4 separate regions of the Homo sapiens genome follow, and regions 1, 2 and 3 are each linked to region 4. Evidence: fine-mapped expression QTL. A gene starts in region 4. Each other region holds a variant in brackets. All regions are shown on one strand. Distances are between the middles of the regions.

Evidence for each region. PIP is the estimated chance that this variant, and not a neighbour inherited with it, causes the effect.
Region 1: its variant is fine-mapped to the expression of TBCD in whole blood (INTERVAL, PIP above 0.99).
Region 2: its variant is fine-mapped to the expression of TBCD in whole blood (INTERVAL, PIP above 0.99).
Region 3: its variant is fine-mapped to the expression of TBCD in CD8 T cells (Kasela 2017, PIP 0.95).

The regions. Positions count from the first base shown.
Region 1 is chr17:82,925,557-82,933,688 of GRCh38, reverse strand. TBCD (tubulin folding cofactor D) reads right to left here. Exons shown (of 39, transcript NM_005993.5): 28 at 7,198-7,289; 29 at 6,366-6,503; 30 at 5,701-5,784; 31 at 4,418-4,576; 32 at 4,189-4,327; 33 at 3,046-3,167; 34 at 954-1,031. Among named protein-coding and RNA genes, the nearest start is that of ZNF750, 90 kb to the right of the region's middle. The variant T/C (reference allele first, on the strand shown) is at 4,359.
Region 2 is chr17:82,914,275-82,922,406 of GRCh38, reverse strand. TBCD (tubulin folding cofactor D) reads right to left here. Exons shown (of 39, transcript NM_005993.5): 24 at 1,789-1,851; 25 at 830-906. Among named protein-coding and RNA genes, the nearest start is that of ZNF750, 78 kb to the right of the region's middle. RefSeq lists an enhancer at 1,350-2,549. The variant A/G (reference allele first, on the strand shown) is at 3,172.
Region 3 is chr17:82,543,388-82,551,387 of GRCh38, reverse strand. All of the region lies in intron 1 of FOXK2 (forkhead box K2), which reads right to left. Among named protein-coding and RNA genes, the nearest start is that of FOXK2, 28 kb to the right of the region's middle. The variant A/G (reference allele first, on the strand shown) is at 3,105.
Region 4 is chr17:82,747,603-82,755,734 of GRCh38, reverse strand. It overlaps TBCD (tubulin folding cofactor D), which reads right to left and starts at 3,670. Exons shown (of 39, transcript NM_005993.5): 1 at 3,358-3,670. The coding sequence starts at 3,541. FN3K (fructosamine 3 kinase) reads right to left here. Exons shown (of 6, transcript NM_022158.4): 5 at 6,758-6,880; 6 at 4,539-5,318. The coding sequence ends at 4,980. RefSeq lists an enhancer at 468-762 and silencers at 3,109-3,428, 4,119-4,478.

The sequences.
Region 1 (8,132 bases), 180 kb before region 4:
CTGAAATCGAGCCACTGCACTACACCCTGGGCAACAGAGCAAGACTCCATCTCAAAACAAACAAAAAAAAAGCAGTGCCCCCAAAAACAGACCACGCTGTCTCCGGATGACCCAACGTGCCCCAGATACAAATATATCCAGGCCAGACGCAGTGGCTCACACCTGTAATCCTAGCACTTTAGGAGGCCAAGGCAGGCACTTGGGGCCAGGAGTTCAAGACCAGCCTGGGAAACATAGTGAAATCCTGTCTCTACTAAAAATACAAACATTAGCCGTACATTAGACTACAGCGCATGCCTGTAGTCCCAGATACTTGGGAGGCTGAGGTAGAGGCTGCAGTGAGCTGTGATTGTGCCACTGCACTCCAGCCTGGGAAACAGAGCTAGACCCTGTCTCAAAAAAAAAAAAAAAAAAAGACTGGCCCAACACGGTGAAATTCAATGAAGCAAGAAAATATGGCAGCAACGAGATGACCACTCAGAGCCAACAACCCAGCTGAGACCAGCCTGGGGCATCCGCGTGGCGCAGAAGCAAGGAGCTCCAATCTCCTGGGCAAGTCCTCGCCAGGTCACCGGCCTCTGCCCTCTCCCCTGCGAGTCTCATCCCCGTACAGCCGAGGCCCCTTCAGGCCCTGCGGCTCCCAGCACAACCCTGAGGCCCACCCCTGGCCCGGTGGGATAGCTGGGGGGAGAGTGCACAGCAGGGCCCCCGCCTCAGCCCCAGATGGGGCTGACTGCACTTACAGTCATAATATGTCATTATGTAAATATGTTATTATTGCGTTATTTTGAGGGCCAGCTGTGATGACGGTATTTACAGTCACCATAACTGACCCAGAACGCACTGGAAGATCATTTCCTGGAATTCTGATCTCTGTGTCTGATGACTTTTTCTTTAATACATGAGCTACTTAGGCTTAATCGGAAAGGAAGTCATGAAAAGCAGAGCCTCACTCCTCCTCCGTGGTGAAGATGTCGAAGCAGCCGTGGGTGAGCACGTGGTCCAGCGTCTTCAGCAGCGGCACGGACACCCTGAGGGGAGAAGGAGCTGTGAGACCCTGGACACCAGCAACAAGGACGCCCAACTCCCTGAATGGCTGAGAGTCAGCAGGATCCCAGTGGAAAGCGACAAGCCCCCTTTATAATTTACGTGGAAACGCAAAGCTTCAGGAAAAGACAAAACAACTGTGGAAAGAAGAAACAAGGCTGGAGGCTGACGCTGAACTTCGAAAATGATGGTAAAGTGGAAGGGATAGAAACAGCACGGCCCTGGTGCAAAGTGAAGCAAACACGTCGGGCACAGGAGAGTCCAAAGTAAACCCACAGTTTCTTACAAAGCTGCAACGGCAATGCAGCGGAGAGGGGAGCCCTCCCAGCAATTGGGGTGGGCACCGCTGGGCGTCAAGGTGCCTGTGCCGACGCTATACCATGTAAGAAACCTCACTCAAGACGCGTCCCAGGTCTAAATACACAACCCAAAACTATAAATCTTCTAGGACAAAACAGAAAATCTCAGTGACCACGGATTAGGCAAGCTGTCTTAGACACACCAGAAAAATCTGTGCCTCAGAGAACAAGGGGAGATGCTGGGACGTGAGGAAAGTGTGAGGCCCCCGCTCGGTGCGTGAAAGGACAGGCAGGGAGAAAACACCCTCAAGTCACATGTGTGACAAGGGAGGATCAGACCACAACAGTCAGGGAAGGAGAACAGAAAAAAATGAAGACACTTCTCCAAAGAGAATATAAAACAGCAACGCGCCAGTGAGAGTGACCTCAGACAGCATCAGCAGAAAGACATGACACGTGGGCGTTCTGGAAACCCTCCAGCAGCTTTCCAAAGCTAGACATTCGCCTCTGTGTGAGCCAGCCTGCGGCGCCTCGGTATTTACCCCACAGAAAAGGAGGCTGGGGAGGTCCCCTCTGGGCGACAGGAGCATCAGGAGAGCTTTAGCACAGGCCGACTAACACACAGGAGAGCTGGGCTCCGCAGCCCACAGAGAGGGAGGCCCAGCTGTGCACACCTACCCACAGGCTCGCACACACAGACTGCCTGCAGCTCTACCAGCAACAGCCCCGATGCGGCAACAACCAAAATGCCCACAGACAGATGCACTGTGGTGCCTCCACCAACAGACACGACTGGTCAGCAAGGAGGAATGAGCGAACGGCAAGGCGGAATGAGCGACCGGCACGGAGGAATGAGCGACCGGCACGCGGCCCAGCGCCTCAAGTGACCATGGGCTGAGGCTATGGTGACGCAGGTCAGGGGCACGGACTCGAAGGGCTGGGAGGAAACCTTGGGCTGGAGCCCACCGTCCTGACTGGGGAAGATTTTAAGGGTGGACACCTATCAAAATCGATCGAACTGCCCCTTTATGTGCAGCTGATTATAGTCGTAACGAGAAAAGAAAACATGGCTGGGCCGAGTTCCTGTTTGCCGAGAGCGGCATCTGTGCTCTCATGGGAGAGGCTGCCGAGGCCCCGCCCGAGGGGACACCAGGCCCGTGTCCTCGTCCTCGCACATGCTGGGAACAACCCTTCCAGAGGATGTTCCCAATTCTGAGGTCAAGGCCCACAGGGTCTATACTCTGCCTCCATGTAAAGCCAGAAACTTCTAGAAAGCAGCGATGTTTCTCACTTGACATTCCATCCTCAGGAACACAGAGCTCTCACTTGCCGGGTGGCTGATGAGCGTCCGCAAGCACGTCCGTGGGAGCACCAAGCTGGAGGAGCTCCCACAACGCCTTCCTACACACAGGGACCACCTTGTACTCATACTACCTTTACGTCCATTGTACACACAACGGTCATTTCCCTGCCTCATGTGGAGGCTAGAAGAGGAGGCGCAGGGGCTGAGGCCTGGCCGCCCGGAGAACCATATGCTGCAGGCACATCTTCCTCGCTGAGCCACCAACTGGTACAGCGTGTGTCTCGCTTCTCCCTTCAGACCCCAGACAGACCCTGCGAGACCCCGGGAATCTGTGGGAACGTGGTGAGAGGCACCAGCACCACTCACGCCTCTGAGGCCCCAAGAGACACCACTCACCTCTCATTCAGAAGGTTGTCCTCAAAGATCTGCAGAAGGGTCCCGCTGAAGCTGCCCAGGGCCTGCGGGTCGCTCTGAATGCCCTTCATGTACTCAAAGAGGCTCTGGGTGGAGTGCCGGATCTGCAACACGGAGACACCTCAGAAGGCAGTGGGACCCCCGAGCCTGCCACCCCTCAGGCTTGGCTACAGCCGGTCAAGCATCTGCTGAAGAGCAGAACTGCTCCGAGCTGCAGAGACGCGAAGGTCTGGCCCCAAGCGGCTGGTGCGGACGCCAGCACGGAGCCACTCACAGTGCAGACACCCGAAGCAGACACAAGGCTCTCGGCAACGGCAGCTCAGCCTGAGCCCTCACTTAGGACATGCGGGAGAGCACGTGACGAAAGGCTGCGGCCACTCACCTTGGGTTTCGCTCACGTTTCCCACTGAAGCGGGATTTGATAATCCCCGCAATTCCCGAGTGCAGAATGTCTCGGGGCCCCGCTCGCATGTGGCCCGGGTCTCCCCGCACGCGCCCGCACGGCGCAGAGGGCACCTCACGTCCTGGGGCCCGGGTCTCCCCGCACGCGCCCACACGGCGCAGAGGGCACCTCACGTCCTGTTACGTGTTTTCTAGGACTTAGCAGCTGTCACAGGGTTGCCACATAAAGCAGGTCATGACCCAAGGTGCAGGGGCCACGAGTGACAAGATGCAGAGAGGCCTTCAAGTTCCACAGCTCAGCCACAGACCAAGGCTCTGGAGACCCTCCCCACAGACATGAGAAGCTGGGCCTGGAGCCCTGAAAGTGGAGGGCGGAGGCCGATCTAGAACCTGATGGAGCCCAGGTACCCACATGCAGGCATCAGACACAGGTCCTGGAGGATTGAACCCCGAGGGGACGCTGGGAGCTCCAAGGCTGCGGCCGCAGGAAGAGAGTGGCGCTGGCCCTGTCCCACCTTCATCAGACTCAACCATCCCACAGGCCCTAAGCCTCCTGGGTCATGAGGAAGACACTGGGCCCCTGACCCCCTAACCAAATATGCCCGAGAGAGATAGAAAGCAATGGAAGAAAAGGCCCAGCTCCATACATGCTCCCAAGAGACAGGGAAGCACCAGGCACTCCTGGAGCCACCTCCTGCCCCAGCCAGCCCGACGCCTCCTCACCGTCGACTCCGTCAAGCCGCCCAGGGACACGACTAGCCCCAGCAGGACGTGGTAGCGGTAGGTGGGCAGCCCAAGGAGCTGGGTGATGCGTGGGAAGGCCTGGGAAGGTGCACTCCAGTTCACGGAGGCCACATCGGACCTGCAAGAGAGTGAGTGAGACAAGGCCGGGC[T/C]GCCAATGATCTCGCCATGGCTGCGGGGCCAGCACGGGGGGCCTACACCCCGACAGTACCTGGGAAACAGCTTTTCCAGTTCTCCTCGGTGGGGCACGTGGGGGATGGGAGGGCTGTCAAAGTGCAGGAGCGTCAGGAACACGCTGGCGGCGTGAGCACGGAAACGGTCAATCTTCTCACTGGCCTGCTGGGCCACACAGCACATGATGCGCTCACAGCTGCAAACCGAGAGCAGGAGGTAAACCAAGGGCGGGCGGTAAATTAAGAGCGGGCGGTAAACTGAGCACAGGCGGTCCGAGCCGTGACTCCAGCCCAAGCACCACGAGGACATGCGGGCTCCTCGGGACATGGTGGCTGAGTTGGCAGCTGACACCAGGACACTGGCTCGGAAGAACCACACTCCGTTACCTTCACATCCCAGGAGCCCAACCCTACAGGTGCGCAGCAAATACATGCTACGTACTTGTTACACATGTGCTACGTGTTACATGCGTGCTGATGAGGTCTTAGGGTTGAAGCAGGGACAACAAATAGGATTACAGGAGCGGGTGGAGAAGAGTGATGGGGACAGAGAGGCCGGGGATGGGGAGAGAGAAGCTGGGGCTGGGGAAGAGATGGGGAGGGGGAAAGAGAAAGAGGTGAGAACTAAGGAAATCAGGCCCTGGGATCCCCACGGCCGAGTGTCCCTGACAGAGAGACTGACAGCAAGGGCAGGGCCTGGACCCCCATGACTCAGTGCCCCCGACAGAGACCCGCAAGGGCAGGGCCTGGACCCCCTGACTGAGTGCCCCTGACAGAGATCCGCAAGGGCAGGGCCTGGACCTCCATGACTCAGTGCCCCCGACAGAGAGACCGACAGAAAGGGCAGGGCCTGGGGGTACCCACAACCCCGTGCCCCCGACAGAGACACACAGCAAGGGCAGGCCCCAATGGCAGCCTCAGGTGCAGGGAACTGAGTGATGGCTCAGCTGGTCCTGGCAGGAGCAGACCCCCAGGTTCAGGGTCCTAAGCTGAGAAGTCCCCACCTCCTGCCCGGCCCTACCCCGGGAAGCTGGCTGTCATCAAACTGGCCAGAGCACCGTTGGAGGCCCAGGCTGGGGAGCAGAGCCTCGTCCTGGGGGCACTGGGCAGAGGAGGATGGGCCCCAGCTCACGCCATGGCTATGGGGGCAGGAGGAGGGGCCTGCACAAACCTGGGGTCAGGGACCAGAGAGGCTCTCTGGGAGGAGGGTGTGTGCCCAGCAGTGCAAATGCCACTGAGCACCAGGACCGCCCGCCCCGCCAGCCTCCCCAAGCTCGGGGCTGCCCTCTAGGATGCAGAAGAGCTGCGACGTGACACTCACGTATGGGCCTCGATCAGCTCAGGCTGGCTCCGAGCCAGCAGAAGTGTCAGATCCATCAGACTGGTCATGGCGGCCTTGCGGACCCTGATGGGACAAGGAGAGGCAGAGACACCCAGCTTGAGAGGGGGGTTCCAACCCTGGTTCTGCCCACCACGCCGGCAGCCTGTGTGAATTCGACACCCGTGACTAACCCCACACAGAGCCCAGGCACGCTGCCAGGGAGTCACGGGGCCTGCAGAGGTTCCCTGTGCGCTACAGGGACGTGTGCAGGGAGCCACCCACAGCCACACACACCGGGGCCCCGAGGCATCCTACACACACAGGCGTTTCAGGGGTTATCAATCCCACTACAGCAAGAAATGTTGGCAAAACCCAATGTAAGCAGCCGGCAGCCTTTCATTGAAGACGCGTCCTCCCTCACACCCTGTCAACGAGGACGACACAGGCCCAACACCTGAGGACGGGCTGGACAAGCACCTGCAAAGCCCTGCCACGCAGGCTCACCCGGGAGCAGAGAACAGGTCATCTTCCCCAGAGCCTTTAAAACGCAAAACACGGCACAAATCTACAAAGATTTCTCCCTGCAGAAAAGCCCGGGGCCTCCGAGTTTCCACGGAATAGATGGGCTTCTCAGAAGAAGCGCTCACCCACTGCTACGTACGTACCAGGTGCCCACGTCCCCTCTGCTGTCCGTGGTGTAGTCGTCCATGCAGCCCAGCAGCGCACAGTAAATCTGGGAAACATTCTCTCCGCACACAGCTTCGTCTGGGGCTCCTGCTTTCACACCAACAGTCTGGCAAATCCTGAAATTTAAAATGTGTGAGCTAACAAACAAACATCGGTGAGCCTCATCTTCCACATCGCAGAGGGCTGATGTGTGTTCCTGATCCTGAGAAGACACGCTCAGAACAGTCCAGGACCCTCGGGTAGATCAGAAACACAGAGCTCCTTCCACATGTATGGAACGTGGGACGTGCTTCCCCGAGGTCACGCTCTGCCGTCTCTCCGGTTGAAAGGTGGATGGGGACGCCCCCTGCGGCTGGTCCCTCCCACTTCCCACCCTGACTAGAGGGAACGGATGCTGGCATAGGAGAGAAGGGGGCGTGCGTGGCCCCCGCGGGACTGCTCCTCTTGTGTGCCTGCAGGGAGGAGAGGGCATATGGCGTGGCCCCAGGTGCGTGTCTGTCAACGAGTGCAGAGATCATTCCAAACACTGGCTGGCAGGGTCAGCTCCTCTTTGCCAACCTTGGGCCAGGACACATTCTCCAATTCTCCAAGGGGCCCAGTGTCCCTAAAGAAGTTTAACATTCACTACGACTATGACAGCAAGAGAATGAAAGAGCCTCCAGCAGCTGGGACTGACGATCCTCTGGAAGAGAGGAAACCTAGGAAGTGAAGAATCATAAGTCCTGCCTCTGAGCAAAAACATCCCCCTTAGCGTTCATCTGCTGGCCTTTCAGAGACTTACGACTTTAGGGAGGAACTGTTGGGACTCACCTCGCAATGGCCTTCAAGCCGTCTCTCCTGGACTCAGCAAAACTTACGTCCTCGGGGGAAGTGTGGGTAACTGCTCTTAAACCTGTGAGAACCTGGAAAGCAATAAAGAATCACAGAAGAACCATAAGCTATAACAAAGTGCACTCTTTAGGGAGGTGGCAATGTTGGCCCGGAGCCACAGACCCCACACCATGAGATAGGCAGCTCCTGGCACCACCTTCCTCACGGCCATCCATGGCCCCTGGTACAACCCAGGAAGGACACCCGGGGAGAGGTCACCTCCAGCCTCTCCACGGCCCCCAGTACAACCCAGGAAGGACACCCGGGGAGGAGTCACCTCCAGCCTCTCCACGGCCCCCGGTACAACCCAGGAAGGACACCCGGGGAGAGGTCACCTCCAGCCTCTCCACGGCCCCCAGTACAACCCAGGAAGGACACCCGGGGAGAGGTCACCTCCAGCCTCTCCACGGCCCCCAGTACAACCCAGGAAGGACACCCGGGGAGAGGTCACCTCCAGCCTCTCCACGGCCCCCAGTACAACCCAGGAAGGACACCCGGGGAGAGGTCACCTCCAGCCTCTCCACGGCCAGCCCCCACCCCAGGGTGTCACTGGGGGTCTGGCCACACCCTACCTGAGGTCCCCCCCTTTTGTCCTACGCTGAGACCTGGGGTATTGACAAAGGAAGCTGCTGGGTCCCGACAACCTCATCTGTCATATCTCCAAGTGATCCTGTTTCACATTTATCTGTGTTTCAACTGGATAAACCCCCACATGCGAGTTTTAGATGGCATGGCGGCTGCGAGGCCCACCCGCCACACAGGCAGGAGTCCGTCTGGAGCTGCAGATCCTGAAGTGCCAAGGCTGGATCCCATGGGGAGGGAAGGGCGTGGGGAACCCAGTGGCCAGGGCCTATTCCAGCTTCAGACGCCAGGTG
Region 2 (8,132 bases), 170 kb before region 4:
TTGGTAACCATGGTTTTTTTTGTTTTTGTTTTTGTTTTTGTTTTTGAGGCAGGGTCTTGCTCTTGTCACCCAGGCTGGAGTGCAATGGCGTGATCTCGGTTCACTGCAACCTTCGCCTCCCAAGTTCAAGCAATTCTCCTGCCTCAGCCTCTTGAGTAGCTGGGATTACAGGCACGCGCCACCTCGCCCCGCTAATTTTTGTATTTTTAGTAGAGATGGGGTTTCACCATGTTGGCCAGGCTGGCCTCGAACTCCTGACCTCAAGTGATCCACCCGCCACTGCGCCGGGCCCATGGTTTCTTATCTATGCAATGAGATCAGCGTTACAGCTCTGTGAGTCCAAAGTCCACCTGTAACCCCCAGGACGGGAGGGGAGGGCAGGTGGCCGGGGACACACACACACACTGGCACCCACACAACATGACCAGGTCAATGTGTGCGAGCAGAGGTCCTGGGGTGCTGTTTTCTCATCTGCACAGGAGCATCATAAAGGGAGTTTCCAAACCTCAGATCCTACAGGACACGGAACTCAACAGAGCACAGTTACTATTGATGCAGAAAAAGTATTTCAAAGGTAACTATAATTAAAACAGCCAGAAGCAATAAAAAATTAAACATTCGGATTCCAATGGCTGTATTGGATTTTCTGGTTATAAACCGTGTAGACGCTACCATCCGGGATTCCAAATAGAATTATGCCCCCATTTGTCAGTTATCAGGCTACTGCAGGGACAGCCTCATGATGCACAGTCGCCAACACAAACACCATCCGTGACTAACACACTAACACCGCCACAGCGCCGGCCGGGAACGCCCATGCTCACTGTACCTTCATCTGCTGGCGGGAGTGACTTGAGATGAGATGGAGATGTCTCAAAGTGTCATTTATCAGCCATTGCCAACCATCTGTCAAAAAATCAAGTTAGCGTACCCAGGCAATCAAAAACACCATGAAATCAAAAACAACAGCAAAAACAGCTTCTATTAATACTAATCTTAAAGTCGATGGTAACCTTTGAGAGGAATCTGTGGAAAAGCCAAAGTGAACATTCTCCACGTTGTGTTAAGTCTAAGGCCCCTTCCTCTCATGGCTGTTAAATTGTGTAAGCTCTTATTGAGGGAAATACCAGCATTCTGTAAATTTTTATACATCACATTTTGGGAAACTTTTATTCTTTTGTTACCCCTAAATCTTTTCCTTCAAACGGTCTCCCCCGGCTCCCACCAATATAAACCCAAATCTTTAACTCAATTAGATCCTGCACAAGCAACAAATGTGAAGGCTATTCAATTAACAAAAAAAAAGTCCTAACTTCTGAGGCTGCTGAGACAGCCCCGGGACACCACAGCCCTGGGGGCTCCCTTCACTGTGCTCTGGCAGCCCAGTGTGGGGGGCTGCTGAGGAACTGGAGCCGCCTCTGCCCACAGGGTCCGTGGTGTCGGCGGCCGGCACGCTCCTGGTCCACGAGGGCCTGGGTGGCTGCAGCTCCCGACTGTCTGCCTGGGAGAAGAACTGACCCAGAGTGCCGGGCCCTGGGCATGGAAGCGAGGAGGTGGGGGTACTGAGGTGACGGCGGGGAAGGGCCCTCCTGTGTTGGGGGGAGAGGGCGGTGGGTACCCATTATTTAAGCAGGTTCTTGTAACAACTTCAAGGCAACGTATCCGATTAATATCTTGAACCTTTAAGCTATAATCGTTTATCGCCCCCATCCTAACAGGTTCATTTTTACCTTTTAATCTGAAGTCATTCTGTAAGAAAATGCTATTATTAAAAACAAAAGCACTTACCAATTACGGTGTCACCTCTAAAGGGCATTTTGGAAAGTGACAACTTTTCTATTAAAACACACACTGGAAAAAAAAAAAAAAAGGATAGACGCAATGTTACTTTTCTAAAAGCGCCTGCCACAGCGGCTTGCCTTTGCCACATTCTGAGTTGTGTGCGGCCAGCTCCTGCCCCTCACCCGCCCAACCTACCCTGCTGCCAGGGCTGGAAACATCCCAGAACCATTTCAGAACCACCATGAGAAGCCCAAGACGCCTCCTCCGCTGAGCAGCCTGAAGAAAGTGCTGCAGACCCAGCCACGTGGCAGAAGGCCCATGTGTGAGCCCACGTGCACTTCAGAGAAGCCGGGCCGGCCTGTCAGGGAGCTGCAGACGTCCCTGTGACAGGCTGTACGGGAAGCATAGCGGCTTCTGCTCCTAGACCTGTCACTCAGGACCCAAGCGACAGACAGCCATCACCTGCAATGCTCCAGACCACAGGTCATGCCTGTCACTTCCCCACATAGCTCGTCACTCACACTCTCCATGACCAGAAACGTGGCCCTGACCAGCCACGAGGGGGCCAGGACGCACGAGACAGAGACGACTGGACAGCATCAGCAGCTCCCACGGCCACACACTGCTCTAGCTCCCACCGTCTCTACCTAACAACGGAACCCACTCGCAGACGCCTGCTGCACACTTGTTCATGGTATTTGCTATTTCTCCTGAGGGACTAAACTCTCCTTCCATTTTTTGTCACCGTGAACAAGGAGGCCTGACCGTGCTACAGATGCGGAGGCCGTCGGTCCACCTGGCGTCCCTGCACACAGGACAGGGACCACACACACACTTCCCATCGTCACAGATACTGCCACTCATCAAACTGAACAGACCAGACAACTCCTGTTCCACGAGAGACCCTGCTCTGTGTCTGTCAGCACCAAGATTCTTCAGTGCCAACCGCAGCCGACTGGAAAGAGGAAAACGGTCCTCTCGATGTGAAGTAACCTGGTACTTCCATGCCTCCGAGGTGAGGCCGGCACCCTCACCGTCCACGGCCACGTGAGTCTGCTCCTCTTCTGCATGAAATGCCCACACGTCTGCTCTGCCCCATTTCATACTGGATCCTTTACCTCGTCACAGGCAGTTTTACAATTTAGTCTTTGTACACTAATTAACTTTTTACCTTTTCGACTGTAGAACAGACGTTTATTCTCAATCTCCGTTTTCCCTACCAACCTACACATGGTCTATTCTTCAATATAAGGCCCAACATAATTATCTCCTTTTGTTTCTACCTTGTGGAATTATTATGATAAAATCTGTTAGCTGGGGATTACATGCCAAGAGGGGGGAAACAAAAAGAAACAAAAAACCCCAGAAAACCAGTTCTTACCACAAGTT[A/G]GAAAAACCCAGCGAGGGGCTGCTGGGACCTGACATTCAGGGTCTTCTTTAAACTCAGAGGAGGGGAGGAGAAAGGAAGCGCCGGGCGAGACTCTGGGCCCCCCCCGTAAACTACTTCTCTTTACTTCTGCGCAGATTTGAAAATTTCTAAACTAAGAAGTTTTCTTCAGAGACTGACACTGTCCTACAACGTCTCCTAAAATTTCTTCGAGGATTTTTATGATGGTAGTTTTTATGCGTAAGTTATTAGTTACTCTCACATTTAGTTTTAGATACGACTTTACCTTCTTCCACGTGGGCACCTGTGACACCATCACTCACTCAAGTGACACGCCTTTGTCCCAGCGCGAATCCTTTCAGCTCTGAACAGAGTACTGCTCTGATGTGTGTTGAGGACTGGGAAATGAAAGTCTTAACTAGTTTTTAAAATAATTTTCTTGGAGATGCACCTGCATGTGAACTTTAAATGTATTTTATAATCAAGTTAAAAACGGCACGCGCGGCTCAGCGGTGCCTCAGCCTCTCACGAAACGGCACGCGGGGCTCAGCGGTGGAATGAAGCGGTGCCTCAGCCTCTCACGAAACGGCACACGGGACTCAGTGGTAGACATGAAAAGGCTTGTACCCACATCTCGCACAGGAATATTCCTGGCAACCTTGTTCACAACAGCAACAGATAGAAATAGCCCCAGTGTACTCTACTGAGTGCTGGTCGAACACACTCTGGTAAAACCCAACCGTGGGCTAGGAAGGCACAAACTGTGAACACATGGACAGCTGGATGGGGTCTCGGCACCACGCTCACAGAAAATGCCCACCTCGAAATGCCACGACCATACGAGTCGATCATGGCATATTCTAGAAGGGACAGACTGGTGGCAGGGGGGCAGGGTGAGAATGCAAAGGGCAGGGGCTGTCTCTGTGGGAAGGATGCAGGTTTCTGATTTGAGTGTGGAGTTAGTTACAGAAATCTACACAGGGCATCAATCTGCACGAAACTAGACACACATGGCCACTCCACACACACATGAAGCCACGAAACCGCACAGGCCTGCAGTCCAGTTAGAGGCAGGGCCTCGACACCGCAGTCCCGGCTCCAACACTGTCATACCCGGAGTCACCGCGGAGGAAGCATGGGAAGCACAGCCAGGCTCTATTACTAATCTCATAACTTCCTGTAAGTCTATAATTATTTCGAAATGAAGAATATTTTTTAAAAACTAACAGACTAGATAACGCAGACCAACCCTCCACTAAGACATTTTTAAAAGCCAGACAAAATGAAAACACACAGGAAGTGCCTGCAGTTACCAGAGAGCTCACGAAGACCTGAGAGGGACAGAGCGGCGGGGGCCAACTCTCCCCGGCTCACGGCTGACTCCAGGGGGCGCCACAAGAACCAGAAACCCCCAACAGTGCATCCAGGAGCATCTCCAGCTAGCAGGAGAACGGGAGTCCAGGATGACCAAAGGGAGAAGCGGTAGAGCCCTCACCACAGGCTCTGAACCCAGAGGACCACACCTAGAAATAGGTGTAAAACGTGGGCCAGCCCAGCACGGACCCCTCCTACGTCCCAAAACCCAATGGAGGTGACCCCGACAGCAAGCACCCGCCTCCCGTCAAGAGCCAACATCAAGTCTCTCTGGGAGAGGAGAACATTGCAGACCTCAAAGCATTTCTGTCATGTCTTGTTCCTGCAGCTTGGTGGAGATGCTTTTCATGTATGATATACCGTCCTTCAGAAACAGCCACAGAGGCTCCAGATGATGACATTAAACAAAGATTTTAAACCATGCTTAATATGTTCCAGGATGTGAAAAAAATGAAAACTATAAAAAATAAGTTCTGAAAAATAAAAAAATTCAAGGATGCGTTTAACGGCAGATAAGGCACACCTGAAAGAATTTGTGACAATGAAATTTAAATCAAAGAAAATGTTCCTGTAATCCCAGCACTTTGGGAGGCCAAGGTGAGCAGATCACAAGGTCAAGAGATCGAGACCAGCCTGGCCAACGTGGTGAAACCCCATCTCTACAAAAAATACAAAAATTAGCTGGGTGTGGTGGCGCATGCCTGTAGTCCCAGCTACTCAGGAGGCTGAAGCAGGAAAATCGCTTAATCCCGGGAGGCGGAGGTTGCAGTGAGCTGAGATTGTGCCACCGCACTCCAGCCTGGTGACAGAGCAAGACTCCAACTCAAAAAAAAAAAAAAGAAAAGAAAAGAAAAAAAAAAGTCCAAACTGAATAAGACAAAACCAGAGGAGGGAGTGTAAGGAGGCGTAAAGAATTAAGTGCGGTGATCCAGACAAGACGTGGGTAATAAGAGTCCCAAAAGGAGAGGAGAGGCCAGTGAGCAATGTTCAAAGAGATCATGGCTAGGAATTTTTCTAAAGTGAACAAAACATCGACAGAAAATACAGATTATGGAACAAGTATGAACCCTAGAGCCCCAAGTCAGATAAACACAAAGGGAACTTGTTCTAGGAATATCACGGTAAAAGTGCTGAAAACCAAATAAAGATAAAAATCTCAAAAGAAGCCAGCGAAACTTAAAAGATTGTCTCCAATACAGTAATAAGTAGACTGGCAGCTAACCTCTCCAGAAGACAAGAGACTATTATCTTTAAAGTGCCAAAACACAAACGAATGAATAAATGCAAACTAAAGTTTCATTCTTAGCAAAAATAACCTTTAAGAATCAAAGTGGGGAAAAAAAAAAAAACAGCACCTTTGGGAGGCCGAGGTGGGTGGATCACCTGAGGTCAGGAGTTCAAGACCAGCCTGGCCCACATGGTGGAACCCCATCTCCACTAAAAATACAAAAATTAGCCTGCCACGGTGGCGCATGCCTGTAATCCCAGCTACTCGGGAGGCTGAGGCGGGAGAAACACTTGAACCTGGGAGATGGAGGCTGCAGTGAGCCGAGATCGCGCCACTGTGACTCCAGCCTGAGCAACAAGAGTGAATGAGACTCCGTCTCAAAAAAAAAAAGTGGAAAAAGCCATTTTGGTATAAACAAACGAGAGGGTGCCACCAGCAGACACACACTATGGAAAACACTAGAGTGTTCTCCAGGCAAAGAGAAAATGGTCCTCTTAGAAGGTGAGAAATGCAGGACAGAACAAGAAGGAGAAGCAGCAGGTGGCTGTGTGGGTAAATCCCAGTGAATTCCCACGGAACAAGAAAGAGAACAGGGTATCTGTACAGGTAAATCCGAATGAACTCCTGTGTGATTTAAGATACAGGTAAAAGCGAAAGGCACGACAGCACCGGCCATGTCTCTGCTGAGGGGACAGGGGAGGTGGCAGGTGTGTACAGGGCATCAGAGATGGAGCACGGAGCCCTCACCCCCACAGCAGGAAGTCCATTAACAGCGTGTCCCCGGCTTGCTAAGTCACGATCCTCCACACACCTGTGGCCGACTCAAGGCTCACCAGTCCCTCTGGTTTCCCTCCCGTCTTCGGCATGAGAGGAGAACTTTTCCTGATTCTCGTGACGCCTCTGGTGCAAGGCTGTGAGCCAGATGACCCCCTTCCTCCCGGCCCCTGCCCTCGGTGATCCACATGTGAGCAGGATAAAAAAACACCTGTGGTTTTAAGACACTGAAACTTGGGGATTGTTTCAAGAGCAAAACGCAGTCCACCCTGACTGACAAACCCCTCCTTCATCGCTGCTTCACTAAACAGAGTTCCTGTTTCTTTCCTTTGATTCTAAAGCATGAAATGCAAGAGCCACTGAGACTAAGACGGAGACAAGGGGACGCTCATCTTCCTGGCACCGGGGGAAGCAGCTCAGTTCAGGCCACGCTGAGGACATCCAGGATGTTCATCTCCTCTCGTGAATATTCACGACAAAGGCCAACCTGTATGACATTTCTTTGATATGGGGACGCAGACGACTCCCAAGGGTTGAGCCACTTTTCCCACAAAATGTGCAAAAAACGTCTGAAGAAATCTGCGGTTCGACACCTCCGGGGCACCTGCGGCCAGGGCGCACCTGATGCTCCTGCGGGCGGCATGTCACCGACATGCCGGCGTCCTCGGGGGTAAGGGCGCCATCCTCTGGCCTGGGTGAGAAAGTGACCAGCAGCCCCTCCCCGTCTCCCACATGTAGCCCGTGAACCCGCAGATTTCTCACCCCGACAAGAGCTTGGAGTCTTGTCTCACTTGAAAGAACACATCTAAAACTAAGGATATCAGGAAACAGCTGCGTACATACAGAACTCAGAAATACAGAAGCAAGGAAAACAGACAGCTAAAAAACTGAAAGGGTTGCCTTTGGAAAAATAAAAATGTGGGACTGGGAGATGCGGGGCCAAGACCACAGACGCTATGCAGAACTATTTCCCCTTCTGAACTATTCCTACTTGAAAGCTGAAAGGGAAAATAATTTCCTACGAAGTGTAAAAATGAACGAGGAGGAGAAAAAAACCTGAGTTGACACCAAGGCTCAGTCAGGATCACCAGGGACACAGCCGGCTTCAGAGCCTGCAGGCCAGAGTCTCCTGGGGCCAGCAAAGGCCATGGAGGGGAAGGAGCTGCACAAGGAGGGCCGGCGCCGGGAGCTGAGGTCACGGCTGGGGAGTGCAGGCAGCCAAGGGGCCCCCAGGGAGGGCGTGGGCAGCATGGGCAGCTTTCCACGGGACACGCCCGCCACGGTGCGAGGCGACATGTGCAGGAGTGCCGCGTTTGCACTCAGCGGTGTGAGGGAGTGCAAACACCGCACTCCAGCAAACACACTCATGGTGCAGACACAGCTGGAGGCCGGCAGGGGGCCCAGAGCAGGGATGCCTCCCATAAAGATGCCCTTCTCCACGATGCCCCCCAGCAATCCACACCCTGCCGTGAACCCTGAGGGATGCATCCCAACAGCACACGTGCCCCAGAGCAGAGGGCAGGGTGGGAAAGCTGGAGTTGGGGGTAGAGAGAGGCAGACAGAAACCACCCTGCACCCAGCACCCCC
Region 3 (8,000 bases), 200 kb after region 4:
AACTTCTTATCCTTCAAAACTCATGACATGCCATCATGTTTATTTTTATTTTTTTTTTAATTTTTTTTTTTGAGATGGAGTCTCGCTCTATCGCCCAGGCTGGAGTGCAGAGGTGCAATCTAAGCTCACTGCAAACTCCGCCTCCCAGGTTCACGCCATTCTCCTGCCTCAGCCTCCCGAGTAGCTAGGACTACAGGTGCCCGCCACCACGCCCGGCTAATTTTTTGGATTTTTAGTAGAGACGGGGTTTCACCGTGTTAGCCAGGATGGTCTCAGTCTCCTGAGCTTGTGATCCGCCCGCCTCGGCCTCCCAAAGTGCTGGGATGACAGGCGTGAGCCACCACTTCCGGCCTTTCAGCACAAATCTTCTAACCTAAGCCTCCGAAGCTTAAAACAGGCTTTGACACCTAACGACCCGGCTCAGTACTGGCTTGCAAGTGTCATCTTTCAGTGACGCACGCTTACTGCACGCAGTGCTTCACAGTGACTTAGAAACCACCTAGTTTTGACACAGAACTTTTCCATACAGACAAGGCCGGTTTCAGGCTTGTGTGGCCAGCACAGCTGCACAAAGCCCACCTCAGGGCCGGCGCCGTGGCCCACACCTGTCATCCCAGCACTTTGGGAGGCTGAGGCAGGCGGATCACAAGGTCAGAAGATCGAGACCATCCTGGCTAACATGGTGAAACCCTGTCTCTATTAAAAAATACAACAAAAATTAGCCGGGCGTGGTGGCGGGCGCCTGTAGTCCCAGCTACTCGGGAGGCTGAGGCAGGAGAATGGCGTGAACCCGGGAGGCGGAGCTTGTAGTGAGCCGAGATTGCGCCACTGCACTCCCGCCTGGGGGACAGAGCAAGACTCCATCTCAAAAAAAAAAAAAAAAAAGCCCGCCTCAGAAGGGCCAGGCATGGAGTTTAATGCCTTACTGCCAACATCTTGAAATCCCTAATCATTTATCTTTAAATTGGTGTTCTGTAGTGAAGTTCAATGGGACACAGCCCATCTTGCTCCTGCACCCCCTTCTTCCCCCACAACTGTCCAATGTCCCTGGTGGGGTGTGAACAGGGGTGCCTTGCTTCAGACACGTATTCCTGGGAAAGCTTGAAGTCAAGTGGCAAATTAAAAACACTATGGCAGGCCAGGAATCCACAGAAGACATAAAGAAGCTCTTTGTGTGTGTGTGTGTGTGTTTGTTTAGAGACAAGGTCTTGCAGTGTCGCCCAGGCTGGAAGGCAGTGGCACAATCATGGCTCACTGCAAGCCCAGGCTGAAGCAATCCTCCCGCCTCAGCCTCCTGAATAGCTGGGACTACAGGCACGTACCACCACACCTGCCTGTTTTGTTTTTGTAGAGATGGGGGTCTCACTGTATTTCTGAAGCTGGTCTCAAATTCCTGGGCTCAAGTGATGCACCCACCTCAATCTCCCAAAGTGCTGGCATTACAGGCATGAGCCACTGGGCCCGGCCTTTTCCTGCTTTCTCAACTACAGGTCCCATGTTTTCATTCTGCACTGGACCCCACATGTTATGAAGCTGGCTCTATATTCTAAGGTATAAATATTAGGAAATGGCGGATGTCCTCAGGCAGATCCGCTTCTGTAGGCACATATCAGGGAGGCTCGATTCCAGAAACATTCATAACCAGGAGGCTAGTGTTAGGTGTTCCAACAACGCATGTGATGAGCAGCTCTGTAAGTGGCTATCGAGCATCCAGAGTTTTCCTTTGGCTTGGAGAGTAATTTGGGGGGTTTTGGCCCCCATCTCCCATTTGCTGCACTGCAACTGTAATAAGGAGAGTAATTTGGGGGGTTTTGCCCCCCATCTCCCATTTGCTGCACTGCAACTGTAATAAGGAGAATAATTTTGGGGTTTTGGCCCCCCTCTCCCATTTGCTGCACTGTAACTGTAATAAGGAGAATAATTTTGGGGGTTTTGGCCCCTCTCCCATTTGCTGTACTGTAACTGTAATAAGGAGAATAATTTTGGGGGTTTGGCCCCCCTCTCCCATTTGCTGTACTGTAACTGTAATAAGGAGAATAATTTTGGGGGTTTTGGCCCCTCTCCCATTTGCTGCACTGTAACTGTGATAAGGAAGTTGCTGGACAGGGCTGCCAGGTCTGCAGTTCGGTGTGGCAACTTGGTGTTGGGGTAAAGGCTGGCTCAGGAGCACACACCCTCACACTTAAGATCCTCACACTCGGAGCTACAGGCAAGGGCCACACCCAGAAGAGGAGGGAGGTGGACTTCAAGTGGCCTCGTAAAACAAAGACACATTCTCCTATAATGTTCAGTCATTCGGGATGTGTTTTAGACTAAGGAAGATTTCCACTCCAGGTCCTGCCAGAGGCTGCTGTGAGAAACTATCACGCTGGTCCTCTCATCTGGATCACCAGACAACAGCTGGGGATCTTAGTGCAGATGGCAGGGTCAGGCTCTCTGGAGGTCTCACGGGTGGTGGCAGTGGAAAGTGCACAGCCCTCCTGTGCCGATGCATCGAGACGCAACCGCTCCTCGGAGGTGAGAATGCTCTTGAGATCATTCTACCCCACACCCGCCCAAATGACATTCACGTAAAACCAAAAAGGGCTCTCTGCCAAACACCCATGCCTCCCCCAGGGTGAGGTCACGGGAGAGGCTGTGGGACAGCGCCTGGGTCCTTTCCTTCCTCTATTCAGTCCACAGCAATTCCTTCTGCTAATTCAGCTGAGCAGTAGCCTCCAAATGCTTTTGACTGTACACCTCTAAGTGAAAAATTAAGTAGAAATCAATATTTGAATATATGAAATACAGTATCAACAAACAGGGCAAAGGATGGAATGGGAGAAAATATTCACAATACACCTATCTCACAAAGGACTTCTGTTCAGGGTATATAAACAAAGCTTAATATTCAGTAAGAAGGTAAACAACCCATTAAAAATGGTCATTCACTACAGATGACATAGAAATGGCCAAAAGCACATGTAGAGATGCTCAACAGCAAGGCAAATTAAACCACGGTTGATGTAAATGATCCAAAGTATTAAAAAAAAATACACATACTGACATACCACTACACACCCAGATAATGGCTAATATAAGAAGACTGACAAAACCAAGTGCTG[A/G]CAAGGATATGGAGCAACTAGCTGTCACATACTGCCAGCAAGAATACAAACTGGTGCAACTGCTCTGGAAAAGTGGGTCAGCTTTTCTGTGAAATAAATGCACACTGACCACCTGGCCCCACCACTCGTACTTGTAGTTATCTGCCAAGAGAAGTGAGAGCACCAGTTCACACAAATGTGACTCCTACACAGACGTTCACAGCAGCGTGATGCACAGCAGCCCAGACTGGACACTGTCTAGACAGTCAGCCGTAGGTGAATGGATCCACAAATGGGGGTACATCCATAGAAGAGAATCCACTCAGCTGCCGCCCAGCAATCGCAAAGGAAAACTGCCCACACAAGTAACACTGATGAACCTCAAATATACCATGTGAATAAGAGCGAGCCAAACACCAGTATATTCTACATGATTCCATGTTTATGAAACCCTGGAAGAAAACACTTCTACGGGAGGGGAGGCACAGAGTTGAGTGTCTGGGACTCTCCAGGGGGATGAGGCTGACTGCCAAGGGGCAAGAGGAAGGTTTGGGGTGAGGGGTAATATCTGGATCTATTATTTTGATTGTGATTTCGGCTACATGGTGTATACAGCTGTCAAAACTCTTTGAAAGGTACCCTTAAGTTTGTTTTATGTGAAATATTCCTCAAAAAAAAGTTTAAAGTAAAAATAAGCTGGCAACAATATATTAATATATGTATAAATTATATTACAGTATTGCACACTGTAAAACAGAAAAATAGCAACTAAGCAGGATGAAAAAAATAACCAGAAGTATTATTTTTCTTCCTAAACTCTTAAAACAAGCTTGTCCAACCCACGGCCCGTGGGCTGCATGCAGCCCAGGATGGCTTTGAATGTGGCCCAATACAAATTCATAAACTTTCTTAAAACATTATGATTTTTGTGATTTTTTCAGCTTACCAGCTCTTGTTAGTGTAGACAATACTTTTTCCAATGTGGCCCAGGAAAGCCTAAAGACTGGACACCCTGAATGTAAAGTATCACCTTGATCACTTCCGGGGAACCACAATGGAGAACCACAATACTACAATGTGAACCACAATACTACACCCTGAATATTCTAAACACAGGGAGTATGATGCTTAAGGTTGTAGCTTTAAAATCAGTAGTAATAGACAGTATACACTATAAGAGAGATCAGTGTATTCTTTCTTTCTTTCTCCTTCCTTTTTTTTTTTTTTTGATGGAGTTTTTGCTCCTGTCGCCCAGGTTGGAGTGCAGTGGTGCCATCTCGGCTCACTGTGACCTCCACCTCCCGGGTTCAAGTGATTCTCCCACCTCAGCCTCCAGAGTAGCTGGGACTACAGGCACCCACCACCACGCCCGACTAATTTTGGTATTTTTAGTAGAGACGGGGTTTCACCATGTTGGGCGGGATGGTCTCAATCCCCTGACCTCAGGTGATCCATCTGCCTCGGCCTCCCAAAGTGCTGGGATTCCAGGTGTGAGCCACCGCACCCGGCCTGAGTTCTTTATTTAAAAGCGAGTTTTAGGTTGGGCTCAGTGGCTTACACCTATTATCCCTGAACTTGGGAGTCTGAGGTGGGAGGAACACTTGAGCCCAGGAGTTCAAGACCAGCCTGGGCAACATGGTGAGACCCCCGTCACCGTTTAAAAAAAAGGAAAAGAAAAGCGAGGTGTTACCTCTGTTTGACACTGGGACGCAGCACTTCACTCTTGGGGCACTCTACAGATTACCTCTCCCTCCACTCGGGACCTGCAGCGAAGAGCTCCTGCATGTGCACTCAGACTCCTAGCTTCCCCACCACACTTACAAGGCGAGCTGCACCGAGAGGTGAACATTTGTTAATGTGCAGGAAAGTATTTTTAATATACCACGCTGGCTGGGTGCAGTGGTTCATGCCTGCGATCCCAGCACTCTGGGAGGCCGAGGCAGGTGGATCACCTGAGGTCAGGAGTTTGAGACCAGCCTGGCCAACACGGCGAAATCCCGTCTCTACCAAAAATACAAAAATTAGGCGGGAGTGGTGGCAGGCACCTGTAATCCCAGCTCCTCAAGAGGCTGAGGCAGGAGAATTGTTTGAACCCAGGAGGCGGAGGTTGCTGTGAGCCAAGATGGCACCACTGCACTCCAGCCTGGGCGACCAAGCGAGACTCCATCTCAAAAAAAAAAAAAAAAAAAACCAACCATGCTTGGTAGCAAGTAAGCACATAGAAGGATCTTCAACATCATTAGTCATTAGGGAAATGCAAATTAAAACCACAATACCTGCTAAAATACCTAAAATAAAAAAGAGAGAAAATGTCAAAAGTTGAGGCAGCTCTGAGGCACCCTGAACTGGATCTCACACAGTGTAAATGGCTATGAACTGCACAAAGCGCTTTCCAACATGTTGGTAAGAAAGCTGAACACATCGGCCAAGCGCGGTGGCTCACGCCTGTAATCCCAGCACTTTGGGAGGCCAAGGCAAGTCGATCATGTGAGGTCAGGAGTTCTAGACCAGCCTGGCCAACATGGTGAAACCCCGTCTCTACTAAAAGTACAAAAATTAGCCAGGTGTGCTGGTGCGTACCTATAATCCCAGCCACTCAGGAGGCTGAGATAGGAGAATCGCTTGAACCTGGGACGCAGAGGTTGCAGTGAGCCAAGATCGTGCCACTGTACTCCAGCCTGGGAGACAGAGCAAGACTCTGTCTCAAAAGAAAAAAAAAAAAAAGCCTTCCAACAACAACAAAAAAAAGACTATAAGAATATTCACAACAGCATTATTCATAATAGCCCCAAATAAAATTACTTTAAATGTCTACCTATAGCAGAATATTGAATCGTTGTATATCCACGTTACTACTTTCCAGTAATGAGAATGGCCAATAGCTACGTGCAAAAATATGGACTAACCTCAGAAACACAGTATTCAATAAAAAACAAACACCGTCTCCTACAAAGGACTCTGTACAATTTCATGGATATGAAGTTCAAAAGCAAACAAAACTAATTTATGGTTTAGAATTCGGGATAGGAATTCCGAGCTGAGGAGTGGGAGGCCCTGGCTGGGAGAGGTGGATGCTGATGACGTCACGTCTTCACTAGAACAGACCGTACCAGTGGTTCTTACTGAGCTATACTTAGAATCTGTGCACTTTTCTGTGTCTAGATGATACTTTTACAAAGTGGAGAGGAATGGAGACCAACTAAGAAACCCCTCCAGAAGTCCAAGTGAGAAACCACTAGGTCAGCAGCAATGGGGAAGAAGGAAGAACAGATGACAGGTCCGAGAAAAGCTCAAGTAGGACAGACGGGGCAGATCGACAATTCTTTTTTTTTTTTAATTATTTTTTTCCATCTCCGTAAACGCAGAGCAACAGAGCACACCATGGAGAGGGTGCGCCCCCGGGACCTGGGTGGGCAGCACTGGCTCCCAAGAGGAAAGGGGGACAGACAGTAGCACTGCAGACACAGAGCTGGACGGAAGCCAGGTCCCAAAGCCACTGAGGACGGCCACCCGCCAGCACTTCACTCTGCACACCCCTCCCACAGCGACTTGCCTGGAGTCGCTCTATGCCCCATAAAGGTCCACAATCCCTTTTCCACAATTCCAGAAAGCAAAAAAGCTCCAAAAAATCTGACCTGAAATCATCTGGCAGCCAATTCTGACCTAAACTGAGAAAGAACTAATTATACCCTTCAATTAGCCCACTTAGTGAGAATATTCATGAGTTCAGCAACAGAAATGCTCACATGTTGGATGACGCAGTGCTGGGAATAAGAAATCATACCCAGTACACACGCTGTGCTACTGTTGTAAAATCCAGTCTGCTCTGATTCCAAAGCATCTCTGGGCCCACGGTTTTGGGTGGCGTGTGTGTGTGTACTGTACCAGCACAGTGCCATTTCCCTAGGACTTTCTCCACAAATATTCTAATTTAAGGGGAAGATTAGGTGGCTTACATAAAAAAAAGAATAAATCCATTTAACTACTGTCCAGAGAAGATGATCAATAAGTATTTTTGTTGTTGTCACTAACAGATGATAAATGCACATGGCATAAAATGTAAAAGCCAAAGAATTTTCAAAGTAAAAGCTTGGCCGGGCGCAGTGGCTCACGCCTATAATCCCAGAACTTTGGAAAGCCGAAGTGGGAGGATCAACTGAGCCCAGGAGTTCAAGACCAGCTTGTGCAACATAGTGAGACCTCATGTCTATAAAAAAAACAAAAAGCTTGGCTGGGCACGGTGGCTCACGCCTGTAATCCGAGCACTTTGGGAGGCTGAGGCGGGCGGATCACGAGGTCAGGAGATTGAGACCATCCTGGCTAACACAGTGAAACCCCATCTCTACTAAAAATACAAAAAATTAGCCAGGCGTGGTGGCGGGTGCCTGTAGTCCCAGCTGCTCGGGAGGCTGAGGCAGGAGAATGGCATGAACCCGGGAGGCGGAGCTTGCAATGAGCCAAGATTGCGCCACTGCACTCCAGCCTGGGTGACAGAAGAAGACTCCGTCTCAAAAAAAAAAAAAAAAAAAAGCTAAGCATGCTGGCGTGTAGTCCCAGCTACTTAGGAGGCTGCAGCAGCAGGATCACTTGAGGCCAGGAGTTCAAGGCTGCAGTGAGCCATGATCACACCACTGCACTCTAGCAAGACCCTGTCTCACTAAAAAATAAAAATAAAAGAAAGACTCTTCCCTATCATGGCCTTCCTACTGCTCCGGTTTCTCATGACCATTCTCAGAGCAGAGCCCAGAACTATTCAAACAAGCAAAGAGAAGCTGCCAGAAGAGGCAAAAGCTCTGGGCTCCAAGTGGGCAGCTGTGGTGGACCTCTGCTCAGCTCCTGGGTGTGGCACCCCCACAGCAGGTGCTCACACAACACTGAGCTATCAGTCTGCCCCTTAAAAGAAGCCTTCATTTAGAT
Region 4 (8,132 bases):
AAATTCTAAGCCCCCTAGCCATCTAACAGACCCCTCCTCTTGGCCAAGGGCATTCCAAACTTAACCTGAAAAACTAGTTCAGGCCTCATGATATTAAGGGATTGTGGGGAGTGGTCCACATAGGCCTCATTATACCCTCCTCTCGTTGGAATTCAGGCACAGCTGATCAGTATTAGCATTAAAACCGATCTTAAGTAGCAATAAGACACCAAATTCCAGCCTGACTCTAGTACAGCATCACATGACAGACAGCAGGCCCTGAAAGAAATCAAAATATTTTTCCCTAAAATATATTTGACATATTTTGAAATGGTTCTGCTAAGTTGTCTCTTGCTGGGAAAAGCTACATTCTGTAGAGAATCCCTTCCTTTTCTAGGTCTTTTCCCTGATCCAAGAGAAAATTAACTAAGTCTGGTACCTTTTTAGTCTGATGAAAAGCATTTACAATCTATTCTCTCTGAAACCAGCTAACTGGAACCTTCATCTGCATAAGAAAAACCTTGGTCTCCACAATTTATCTTAACCTAGACAATCCCTTCTATGGATTCCAGGTCTTCAGATAAACTCTTTCAACCAATCACCAATCGTGAAATATTTGAATCCACCAATGCCCTGGACGCCCTCCCACCCAAGATGTCCCGCCTTCCCTGACGAGACCAATGTACATCTTACAGGTATTGATTGATGTCTCACGTCTCCCTAAAACGTGTAAAACTAAGCTGTAGCCCGACTTCCTTGGGGACATGTGACCTCCTGAGGCTGCCTCACGGGCACACCCTTAACCTTCTAAACTGATTGAGACTCGTCTCAGATACTTTTTGGTTGACATATCCAGGCACTGCTCCCTTCCACACAGCTGCCAGCTCTTCACAACCTCCCAGACCCTGAACCACCGCTTTCTCCTCCTCTCAGCAGCTGAAACTGCTTCTGTCCAATCCGGCAGCTCCCACCTCCACATCTGAACACACCCACTGCTTCCCAGCAAAACTGCCTTTGCAAAAGTGATCTGTGAGGAAATTATGGCAATGGGGCAGATCTGATCCAGGCAACCCCCTCATGCCTTTAGTCTTCAAGCTGCCAAGCTACCTCTGGGAGACATTTAATTTATAGTTTAAATGCTAAGAGCCCTTCCCCAAAACTCAACTGCCTTTGTAAAGTTAATGAGAGGCCACCAGGCTAGGAGGAGGAGAGGAGCCTGAATTCCGCTAAGGCGTAACCTAATTGCCAGCCATTATTCTTGAGATCACAAGACATGCGAGTTCCCCAGTTACTCCTGCAGACCATGTCACTATTGCAGAACCTGAGACTGGCCTTTAAAGATATCTTTTCAGATTGTTTCCATGTCTGACACCTACACTAGGATCCACGGACCCATGATAGCTCCACCTGGACCCGCCCACTGCTCCTGGGGCCCCACGCAGACGCGATTCAGCACATCACGGAGGATCATTTCCGACTCCCCTATGATTGTATACCCCTAACCAATCAGCCACCCCCACCCTTTCCCCCAGATTACCTCTAAAAAACCCTGGCCCTCAAATTCTCAGGGAGACTGATCTGAGTAATAATAAAACTCCAGCCGGGCGTGGTGGCTCACTTTGGGAGGCTGAGGCGGGTGGATCACGAGGTCAGGAGATCGAGACCATCCTGGCTAACACGATGAAACCCGTCACTACTAATAATACGAAAAATTAGGTGGGCGTGGTGGCGCGCACCTGTAGTCCCAGCTACTCGGGAGGCTGAGGCAGGAGAATCACTTGAACCTGGGAGGTGGAGGTTGTGGAGGTTGCAGTGAGCTGAGATCTCATCACTGCACTCCACCCTGGGGGACAAAGTGAGACTCCGCCTCAAAAAAAAAAAAAAAAACCTCTAGTCTAGTCTCCCTTTCAACCGGCTCTGCGTGAACTAAATCTTCTCCATGGCAACTCCCCTGCCCTGACAAATCAACTCTATCTGGGCAGCCCGCAGAAAGAACCCACTGGGGCCGAGCGCAGTGGCTCACACCTGTAATCTCAACACTTTGGGAGGCTGAGTCGGGCGACCACTTGAGGTCAGGAGTTTGAGACCAGCCTGACCAACATGGTGAAACCCCCTCTACTAAAAATACAAAATTAGCCGGGCGTGGTGGCGCGCGCCTGTAGCCCCAGCTACTCGGGAGGCTAAGACAGGAGAATAGCTTGAACCTGAGAGGTTGAGGTTGCAGTGAGCCAAGATCGCACCACTGCACTGCACTCCAGCCTGGGCAACAGAGCAAGACTTCGTATCAAAAAAAAAAAAAAAAAAAAAAGGAAGAAGCCATTGGGCTGTTACACCAGGAACAAAAAATCTGGCTTCACTGGTCCCTGGATGAGGGTCCCTCACCCTCAGAACAGTTCTGCACGAGAGGCATCGTTATCCGCCCCAGCTTACACCCGAAGAAACAGGCAATCAAGTATCAGGTCCAAGCGACAGGGCCAGAATTCACAGGCAGGAGGATCTGACGCCGAACCCGCACTCCTCCCACAAGGCCCCCCACCCTGCCTGACTCCTAAAATCAAAGCGCTGTCATTCTAAAATGAGGAAGGCCAAATAATGCAAAAGTTCTTCTTACTCAAAGGGTCTACAAAGATGATTTTACTGAATTACAAAACCCCATGTAACTACTTAGCTATGAGCTCCTAAGGACTTGTTTGGAAATAACCCATTATAGACAGCGGTAAAGGTGGGTCTGAACTCGGAGAATTTAGACTCATCGAATGGCCTCCACAGGGGTACCTACACCCCACCCCGCCTGCAGAGGCACGGACCCGGCCAGCCCGCTCTGTCCACGGCGTCCACGGAACGGACAGGCTGCTGCCCTCCCCACCCGAGGCGCGCTTTGTTTGCAGCAGGTTTGTTCCCTGCGTCCCCCTCTCTCATTCCCTATCTCCCTGTCCACACAACATTCACAGAAACCGCGCTCGGTGGAGGCAAGCCTGGGAGTCCACACTGCAGGGCTGACCAGCTGTCCGGAGGGGTCTGGCCCGAGTCTCCCCAGCCCAGGGACCTCCTCCAGTGACGGAGACGGGGGACGGAGGGCTTCTGCACCCCGCCTCCCGGGGAGGCCGCAGAGGCTTCACCCCGTGCGAGAGCAGGCGCTCCGCGGGCCACGGTCCCCCCAAGGGAGGCGCGCGTCTGCCCCGTGCACCTAACGCCGCGCCGGGGTGGCCCTCTCCCGCCTAGGAAGGCCGCGCCCCACCACGGCCCGCGGGACCGCGCACCGGCAGCCCTCGCAGAGCGGCCGGCGCCGCCGGGCTGCGGTCCCCGCCCGGTAAAGTGCACTCAGCGCGCCGAACCCGGGCCGGGGGAGGAAGCGGGCACGCGGCGCCGCCCACGCACCGCGGAACCGCTCCAGGGCCACCTCGCGCTCCGCGCCGCCGCCGTGCACCTCCCGCAGGCGGCCCAGCAGCGCCCGGGTCTCCGCGCTCTCGCCGAACGCTTCCAGCGCCGCGCCAAAGGCCAGTGTCTCGTCCTCCGCCTCCTCCTCGGGGCCGCCCGCGGCCGGTTCGTCGCTCAGGGCCATCTCGGCAGCCTGGGGACCGCGCCCCCGCCTCACGTGTTCGCAGATCCCACTCCGCTAGAGCGCGAAAGCCAGGGATGAAGGATGAGGGATGAAAAGGAGGCGCCCGCTAAGGCGGCAACCGACGCTGGCCCCGCCCCGCGACCTCCGACCCCACTCGCCGGCCTCGCTACGGAACGCGTCGGCCGCCAAAATACCGCGCGCGGGACGGCGCGTGCACTTGAGGACGCGAGCGGGCACGGGTCCCAAAGGCTCTGGAAGAGCGCGCCGTGGACCCCACAGGGCGCGAGCGGAGCCGGGACCGCTCAGCGGGGCCTGAGCACGCGGTGGGCGGGGCAGGACAGGAGGTGGGGCCTGAGACGCGGTGGGCCGGGCTGCGGGGTGAGGCCGCCGCCGGAGGACAGCGGGGCGGAGCCTGAGCAGGCGGTGTGCGGGGGGGCGGGGCTTCGGGATGGGGCCGGGGGCCGCCAGGGCGGGGCTTGAGCACGCGATAGGGGGCGGGGCTGCGCGCAACGGGGGCGGGGCCCGGGCACGCGTGGGTGGGAGGGGCAGGGCTTGCGGTGGGGCCGGAGACAGCGGGGCGGAGCCACAACACGCCGGGGGGCGGGGCGGGGGCGGGGCGGGGGCGGGTGGGACCGGGGGACCGCGGAGCGGGGCGGAGCCTCAGCATGCGTGGACGGGGAGGGGCGGGGCCTGAGCACGCAGTCGGGGGCGCGAGGCGAGCCCCGGGACCCACCCCTCAGAGCCAACCGCCCTGACACTTATTCGCGCCACGCTGGGACCCGCGCGGATCACACGGGCCCCGCGCCGAGTGGTGGCGCGCCCCAGAGCGGGAGCGGGAGCGGGGCCCGGAGGCCGCGGTGGGCGCTGCGCCGACTTTGGCCTTGGCTACCGGGTCCGCGTGCGTTTCCCCTGAATCGCCGCAAAAACGTCCGTGCACAGCTCGCCGTGCGTCTGGCCCTGAAAGCAGCCCCACGAGCGGAGGAACGAGGCGCAGGACGCCAGCCGAGACCCGCTGCGGGCTTTATTGGTCCCCAGGATCTGGGAGGGGTCGGGGGAAGGGGGACAGGGACAGGGGGGACGGGGACGGGGGACGGGGACGGGGGGACGGCGATGGGAGACGGGGATGGAGGATGGGGACGGGGGAACGGAGACGGGGACGGGGCAGGGGGGACGGGGACGGAGATGGGGGACGGGGATGGGGGGTCGGGGACAGGGGGATTGGTATGTGGACAGGGGGACAGGGGGACGGGGGACAGGGATGGAGGGACGGGGACGGGGGGACGGGGACAGGAGGATGGGGGGACGGGGGGATGGAGACGGAGGGACGGGGAGACGGGAACAGGGGGACAGGGACGGGGGCACAGGGACGGGGGACGGGGGGACAGGGACGGGGAGACGGAGACGGGGACGGGGACAGGGGAAGGGAGGGCAGGGGCCGCTACTTGAGCAGCCTTCGCATGGTGCCCAAGGAAGGGCTCCTGTACTCCCGCCCGAAGTGGTTCCAGTGGTTCAGGTAGTTAAACAGCTGGTAGAGCAGCAGCCGCTGGTCGAAGCCCGGAGCCTTGGGGATCTTCCGGTGGTAGGCGGTGAAGAAGGATCTGGGGAACCCCCCAAACATCAAGGCGATTGCCAGTTCAAACTCGGAATGGCCATAGAAGGAAGCCGGGTCGTAAATAATGGGCCCCACGTCGTCCTCAGCCACGTTTCCCGACCAGAGATCCCCGTGGAGCAACGCGGGGACAATCTCTAGGCCACAAAACAGATCCGGGATCTTCACCTACGAGAGCAACGGCTGCAGTTATCGCTGGCCTCTGGGAGCCCCGGTCTCATCACCTCGTTCTTGGAAATAAGGCAAAGCCCACTCGCGATCTGCTTCGGTGTCCAGCCCCAGCACTGCCTGCCAAGCCCAGAAATAGGGGCCACCTGACTTCAGGGGAGTCTAGCTTTGTCTAACTTAGGATTTCCTCCTAATTTAGGTCTAGAATCCCCACACAGTGGAGAACCTCTGAGGTTATAGTTTTAATCGACCCACAGAATAGGAACCAGTGTTGCGCTACCTTAGCAAACTCTGGCCACTTTTATTTCGCTACACATATATGTCTGCAGGTTTTGTTTGGTTTTGTTGTTTTTTTCTTTGAGAGGGAATCTTGCTCTGTCACCCAGGCTGGAGTGCAGTGGCGCCATCTCGGCTCACTGCAACCTCCGCCTCCCGGATTCAAGTGATTCTCCTGCCTCAGCCTACTGAGTAGCTGGGATTACAGGCACCCGCCACTACACCCGGCTAATTTTTGTATTTTTAGTAGAGATGGGGTTTCACCATATTGGCCAGTCTGGTCTTGAAATCCTGACCTCAGGTAAAATCTATCCACCTCGGCCTCCCAAAGTGCTAGGATTACAGGCTTGAGCCACCGTGCCCAGCCTAGTTTCTTCATTAATGAGTTCAAGTCTCTTTGATGTATACTCACTCTGGATTGACATGCACATTCTTTTTTAACATTTTGAGAGTTATATTTTGATTTTTTTTCTTTTTGATACAGGATCTCACTCTGTCGTCCAGGCTGGAGTGCAATGGTGCAATCTCCCCTCACTGCAGCCTCCGCCTCCCGGGTTCAAGTGATTCTCCTGCCTCAGCCTCCTGAGTAGCTGGGATTACAGGCATGCACCACCATGCACGGTTAATTTTTGCATTTTTAGTACAGACAGGGTTTCACCATGTTGGCCAGGCTGGTCTCAAACTCCTGACCTCAAGTGATCTGCCCACCTAGGCCTCCCAAATGCTGCGATTACAGGCGTGAACCACTGTGCCCGGCCGAGAGTTATGTTTTGAAATCAGTCATTCTGGATCATCTGGTACCCACATCTTCCCATGGGAGAGGAACACGATGGAGTGGACAAGTGTTACTGATAGTAAGAACAGTAATCATGGTAAACACCACCATTTACAAGCACCTGTGTTTCACATGAGGAAAGTCTGAGGCTAAATACCTGGTGACCTAGCAGTGGAGAGGGGCACGAGGAGCCAAGTGTGTCTTCACTCCTCACTCCTTTCGGACTCCCTTTTGGGGGAACCCCCGCCCCTGCCCCCCTTCCTCCCTGATGTGTGCTCCAGGACTCAGTGTTCCCTGCTCCAGCTCCGTTTTACAGATGAACCCGCACAAATGCGGCGGGATCATGAGAGGACCAGCTCTTTCCCAGAGAAGTCACTGCCGTGCCCACCTGTAGCCGGGACCAGAGTTCTCGTGCCTCTCGGTCAGCATAGTCCTTCTCAATGAGGTCCAGCTGCGCCTGGAGCCGGTGCCGGGCGAAAAAGGTCGGCCAGTCATCCTGCCACTCATTCACCTGGACAACAAGGGAAAAGAGGCCACTGTTGCAATTCGGAGCCAAGTGCTGCCTAAACCCTAGAGGGACCATTCAAAACCCAGCAAAGATACCTAGTAAGCCAACAAAGGAGGTAAGACAGAAACATAAAATACTCAACCCAGAGGAAGGCAGGTAAAGAGAGAACAAAGGGCAGATGAAACAAAAAACAAATTGCAAGATGACAGACTCAAAACTATATGACTAAGCACATTAAATACGAATGTCAAAAATAAATACTCTTGGTAAATGACAGATTGGCAGGTTGGAAAAATAAAGCAAATCCAACAATAAGTTATGTGCAAAAAGACATTATCTACTAAAAAAAAAAAAAGCTTGAAAGGATAGAAAAGATATACCATGCTAACACTAGTCAAAAGAAAGCTGGAGGCCAGGCACAGTGGCTCACGCCTGCAATTCCCAGCACTTTGGGAGGCTGAGGTGGGCAGATCCCTTGAGCCCAGGAGTTAAAGACCAGTCTAGGCAACATAAGGAAACTCCATCTCTACTAAAAATACAAAATTAGCCGGGCATGGTGGCGTGGGCCTGTAGTCCCAGCTACTTGGGAGGCTGACGTAGGAGAATCGCTTGAACCCACAGGCAAAGGGTGCAGTGAGCCGAGATCGCGCCATTGCACTCCAGCCTGGGCAACAAGAGTGAAACTCTATCTCAAAAAAAAAAAGAAAAAAAAAAAGAAAGCTAGAGTGGCTACATTAATACAAGACAAAGTAGATTTCAAAGCAAAGAAAATCAAATATAGTCATTTCACAAAGGGAGTCGACTAATGAACATAATAATCCTAAATGCCTACACCTCTAATAACACAGCTTCAAAATACGTAAAAGAACTGCAGGAAAAATAGATAAATCCCATATCCTGCTATTGACTCAATGGTGCCCACCCCCGTTCCTACGTTGAAGCCCTAACCCCTAATATACCTGTATTTGGAGGAAGGGCCTCTAGGAGGTAATTAGGGTTAAATAAAATCGTAAGGGTGAATTATTAATCCAATAGGATTAGTGGCCTATAAGAAGAGGAATAGAGTAGGATTTCTCTCTCCATGCAAACAGATCTCAATAAATTGAGAAGAATTTAAGCATGCAAAGTATAATCAAATTCAATTAGAAATCAATAGGAAGGCCAGGCCTGGTGGCTCACGCCCATAATCCCAACACTTTGGGAGGCCGAGGTGGGTGGATCACGAGGTCAAGAGATCAAAACCATCCTGACCAAC